2 separate regions of the Homo sapiens genome follow, and region 1 is linked to region 2. The links come from fine-mapping of genetic effects on gene expression. A gene starts in region 2. The other region holds a variant in brackets. All regions are shown on one strand. Distances are from middle to middle. Region 1 has its middle 80 kb from the start of LINC02406. Region 2 holds the start of LINC02406 (long intergenic non-protein coding RNA 2406).

The links.
Region 1: its variant is fine-mapped to the expression of LINC02406 in caudate (GTEx, PIP 0.99).

What each region holds. Positions count from the first base shown.
Region 1 is chr12:39,064,090-39,067,005 of GRCh38, reverse strand. No RefSeq gene overlaps it. Among named protein-coding and RNA genes, the nearest start is that of LINC02406, 80 kb to the left of the region's middle. The variant A/G (reference allele first, on the strand shown) is at 1,684.
Region 2 is chr12:39,144,267-39,147,182 of GRCh38, reverse strand. It overlaps LINC02406 (long intergenic non-protein coding RNA 2406), which reads left to right and starts at 1,713. Exons shown (of 3, transcript NR_183477.1): 1 at 1,713-1,815.

The DNA of each region.
Region 1 (2,916 bases), 80 kb after region 2:
GCCCAGTCAGCTCATAGAATCATAAGAAATAATGAGTCATAAGAAATAAGAAATAATACTTTTTAAAGCCACTAAATTTTTGAGTGGTTTTTAGTATGCAGAAACTAATAACTAATACATAAAATGTGTTACAATGGCACGTTAGAAATGCAATGCCATTGGTGACATAAATATAAATCATTTATCATTGGCTTTAAGACCCAGTAATGGGCAGAGGCTGTAAAAATAGTAAAAAGTTAGTAAAAGCTTGTGGGATGGTGAACAAATTGTTAATGGAAGCTGAAAATATGGCCACACGTGTTTTGTACAATTGCCTCCAATAATTTGGAAGGTAGAAAATGTACCTAATGAACTTGTGTATCTGACAAAGAAGATTTCTGGGCAGAATACTGAATATATTGACCTCTTTAAATTGTGTATAATGTTATAGGAGAAGAGAAATAAACTAAACAAAGAAAAGTACAGTTGAAAAAAAGAATTTAGAAAGAAGATAGAAGTTCTTGGACTGACTGAGTTGGAATATCAAACTGTTTCTCATCCTCAGTCTCTCCAGCCAGTAAAATATTCCCAAAGAAAGAAATGACTGTAGGTAAAGATCAATAAGTGTGTGGCTATGAAAGCCTTTGTTGAGACCACAGAATAATTTAGCTTGATGTCTGATAGGCCTTCTAAACCAGACAAAAGGGCTTTAAAAAATCTTAAAGATATTTTCTCACAGCATGCTGAACACAAGGAAGAGACCTCTGTCTCTGCTATTTCTGGGGCCTGTCCTATACTTTTCCTCCTTTCTACATTTATTCAAACTGTTTCCTCTTTCTTCCATTTATTGAATGCCTTTCTCTGCTGTCTCTGTACATCCAAATTCTTCCAATGCTTCATCTACCTTCTTCATGAAGGCTGCCTGAAAACCTCACATAGAAATAATCTCTCTTTCTTCTGAACTCCAGGAGCACCAAATATATACTTTTCTTTAAAGTCTTATTTATACATATTTATAACATGTATTTAAAAATTATAAAATAATATTTATATTTACAATATAAATATTTACTGTTATATTAAGAAAATTACATTTTCTATCTTGCATCATATTCATTCACTTCACTGTCTTATTTCTCCCTCCGTATTTTAACCTCCTTATGGCAAAACTAATGTCTGGCTCAATTTTGCATGTTTCACATCTTCAAGCACAATAAATATTCAATAAGTAAATACCAGTGAGTACTTGTCCATTGCTCTGTAAATACCTTTTTGGGATGCAAAGAAATAGCAAGACACAATTGGACTGAAATTATAGAAATATGGAGTTTCTTCACTCATACTGAAAAGAATGCAGAAAGTGTCTCAGAAAAGAGGATGTGAAATAATTCCATCAACTGTGCTGATGAGGACTCAGAATTGAACGTGGGTTATAGCAACATGCAGTTCTTTGTTCATCTTGATAAGAGCAGTTCCAGTAGGGTTTTGGGGAGGTTAAGGCCTGAGATGAGTATCTTCAAGAGAGAGCAGAGAGAGAAAGGGAAAAGACTGACAGTAAACGATTCTTTTGAAAAAGTTAATTTTAAGGAAGAGAGAAATGGAGTGAAATGAGGTCAAAAAAGGGAATGTAAGTTATTTTTTGAAGATGAGATAAAAATGTGTGTTGTATGATGATATGAAAGATGGTATAAGAAAAAGGGGAGA[A/G]AGGCTGGAGTCCAGTGAATTGCTGGAAGAGTTCGTCTCAGGAGCACAGGCAGTTCATCCACCATAACAGAAGAGAAGGTCAAGTTGGAGCACATGTGCACAGAAACAGTCGATTTGGCGGCTGAGCTAGGTTTATAATCAACTTCTTTCGAATGGCTTAGCAACACATGGAGGGATAATACATTAAGAATGAAGGGCTAAAAAAGGCCATCAGGTTCTATCCTCTTCAGTCTGTCTTTTTAGAGAAACAAGTCACAGAAACCTGAAGAAACTGGTCTTTATCATTTAATAGTAGAAATGAGACTAGAACTCAGATTTGCTCAGAAGGCATTTCCCCTGTATTGCATTGTCTAAGACGACTAAGAAAAATATTCCAGCTGCCTGCAGGTCTGGTTGTTAAGGCTGAGGTATGAGTGTTGCCTTGACATCCTCTCTGACTGAGTGCGAGCCTGTGGAGTCGTGTTTGCTCTGACATCCAATGCTCCTGTGTGTGCTGCAGATCAGGAATCTTGGTAAATACATCCTCTATCTCCTCACCCCGCTCCGGTTAAGCAGATTTGTAGGGCTTTCTCCGATGATTTGTGAATTATCATGTACCGAAAGTAGAGAGTGGAAGGACTCAGTTTTCTATTACTATGTATAAAAGCATTCTTATAATAGATATTTAACAAATTCTGTTGCACCTTGTGTTTTCTCCAAGTATATAGAAAAATTACATTTTCTCAATATTCACTTGATGGTTATTATTGGGAATAAGATGGAATAAAAGACATACTACCTGTTCTCAAAAGGGCTAAGTAGGACAACTAAGAGAATGAAGAGAAAAAAAAAAAGCCAAATGGAGGTGTGAGGAATGCAAAAGGAGATTTTAATTCTGACAAGAATTAGATAAGAGTTCAGGGAGGAGATAGTTGCACTGAGGGCTTATTTTGTTTAAAAGAACTACATAAGAAAGGCACAAAAGAAGAAAAAGATTCTAGATATTTTCTAGTTATAAAAAGAATAGTATGACAGGAAGTAAAAGGAGGAAATATAAAATGGTTTTATAATTCCTGTCAGTACATAGCTCATATAATAAATGTTGGAATGCATGTGTTAGAATTCCATCATCTATTCATACATACAAAATATATAGTTTGCCTAGACCAACCCTTTCCCCTCACATTCTAAAAAGATAATATTTATTTATATAAGCCACAGTATGTGTACCTCTGCTTAGTTGAAAAGAGAGGT
Region 2 (2,916 bases):
AAAATATCCCATATACCTCGTAAATCTTAAATATATACTCCTAATATATGCCCACAAAAATTAAAAATTAAAATTAAAAAAAGAATGTGAATATGAGGCTTAGGGAGACATTCACTGAATATTGAATTGATTCCTCAAAAGTATAAAATGTATATTTTATAAGTAATATTGGAAACAATAATTAACATTGTCACTAACATCTTATACCTCAACTAGTATAATTCGGTATTCAGTATTTTTCCCAAAATTATTACTTACAGTCATTGAAAATGTTAACTATCATGTTTAACTTGTAATTGCTTGTTGAAAGGAAAGAATATGAAAATGGTTAGAGTACATTGCAAATGTAGCTAGCAGTGTTTGTAATAAGGCTGAGATTCTGATGGATTTGCATAGAATTTGAATTACAAGTTACCTCCTTATAAAAGGTAAATTCTACATTTTATAAAGGCATATACATTTGATAGTAAATATTCTAAATTAATTGCAAATGTTAGCTTATTGAGTCCTCACTAACAAGAGCTATTATCTCATTTGACAGAGGATGTAATTGAGGTGCAGAAAGGTGAAGTGACTTGCCCAAGGTCACACATTTTGTAAGAGGTGAAGGTAGAACTGCAACCCAGGTTGCCCAGCCTGAAAGTCCGATCACTAACAGAAGTTTCCCACCCATCCCTAATCGACAAATTCGCAGTACAATAGAAAATCGTGGGTTTAGTTTAGTTTTTTTTTTTTCTTTTTTTCTTTTTTGAGACGGAGTTTCGCTCTTGTTGCCCAGGCTGGAGTGCAATGGCGCGATCTCGGCTCACCGCAACCTCCGCTTCCCGGGTTCAAGTGATTCTCCTGCCTCAGCCTTCCGAGTAGCTGGGATTACAGGCATGTGCCACCACGCCCAGCTAATTTTGTATTTTTAGTAGAGACGAATTTCTCCATGTTGGTCAGGCTGGTATCGAACTCCCGACCTCAGGTGATCCGCCCGCCTCGGCCTCCCAAAGTGCTGGGATTACAGGCCTGAGCCATTGCGCTCAGCCTCAGAAAATCGTGTTTTTAAAGCTCTTTCAGTTGTAATACATTACAGTTCTGTGAGGAGGAGAGCTCTGAGTGCTTACTCGGCATCAGGCAATTTGTGCTATATGCCCATATCTTCCAAATAACCTTATGAGATCAGTACTGTTATTATCCATGTTGTACATGTGAGGAAAATGAGGAACAGAGAATGGAAATAATTTTCTAAGCATCTCATAACCAACCGACGGTGGATTCAAGCCTATAAAATCGGATTGCAGTCTATATAGCTTGTCTCTTAAGCCTTGTGCGTCAGAACTATTATTATAAATCTTTTAATATGCAAAAGCAAAACAAACATGAAACTAAATGGAGGTATTATAGAATTGGGGAAATGGAGAGAGGTGGAAGAGGGCTTTCCGTGTGCAGTAGCAAGAGAAGTGGCAGCAGCTGGCAGTGAGTGGATTAAAATGTTACCACGGAACGCGCCTTTTTAACTCTGGCCTTGAAATCCTGTCAGCGCGCTTCCCAGAGCCTTGCACCAGGTTGGGTGGACCGGATGGACACCCTCGGTGTCGCCTGCTCTCCATCGCCCCTGGTGCCGGCGTCCGCCACTGTCGGGACTTTGGCGCCGGGACCGGCGGGGTTAAGGCGCCGGCGCTGGAGGCGGCGAGTTCGCGACCTTCCGGGGCGGCGGACCACCCCGCACACGCGTCCTCAGCGCCGGACCCTGAGCCGGCCGCGAACACGGATCCGACGTCAAGAACTGGGCACTTCCCGCTCCGTTTTGTCCGTGCCCCTCGGTGCTGGGTGAGGTCCTCCAGCACCAGGAGGCGGGAACGGGAGTGACTCGGGTGCTGAAGCGGGACGAATTGGGGGCGGTCGAATCCACCTGCTTCGCCGGCGCTGGCTCGGGGCACTCCGAGTGGGCGCGCGCTTTCGCGCCGGGGTCGTCTGAAGGTCGCGGACTCTGTCCCGCTCTGGAGTTTGTGGCGGGTTTGGGCGTGGGTGTGGGTAGGAGGTCCCTTCATGAAGCCCCGAAGAGCAAGAGGGACATAAGTTGGCGCCTTTCTCTTCCACTCTTGTTTTAAAAAAGAGAGTCGCGGCGTGCAAATGGGGGCAGGCGGGGAAACCACGCTCAAAACCGGGTTCTCTCCTGGGCTGTAGTGATAAGGGCCGCGGAACCCCACCCCCCTCCCCAGAATGTGCCCCAGGGCTCGGGGCCGGCTTCTGTGGCGGCCTCTCCGGGACCGGCTGGGCCGCCCAGGCCCGCCCCTCCCCAGTCCCGGCGCCCTGGGCCCTCTGTTTGCAGGCGTCGCGACTTGCAGCCAGGGCACGTGGGGCAGGTGCGGATTCTGTCGCTAGAGACCTAGTCGCCTCCCTCCTACTGCCTTTCCCGCGAGCGGGGCAGGTGGCGCAAGGTCCGCTCCCACTTGGACCCCCAGTTCGCGGCCAGGGGGCTGAGCCGGGGTAGCTCGGCGTTGAGTGGGGACCCGGTCGGCTGCCGCCGGGGTGAGCGGTCGGTCCTGGAACCTGCGAACGTTCGGGAGCACAACCCAGTCCCGGGAAACCGCTGCTTAACCTCCGTCTCCTGCGTTTTAGATCCTCTTTTGACTGTCCCACATCTGATACTCCTTACTGTATTGCACACTTCAGCATTTGTTGAGAGGGTAATCTCATATTAAGTGTTCTTACCACCATACAAGAAAATAGAAAGTCATGTTCACTGTTTCATCTCCAATTTTAGGGATCTATACCTGACATAATTTAAATATCCAAACTAAAACAGTATCTTGGTGACTATTCAGAGGGATGCACTGACTCGCTGAACGCTAGAATTTTTCTATGTTCCACAGTCTGTGGAAGATGCAACGATCCCTTTTCAGAAAACTAAATCTAAGAGGTATTAAA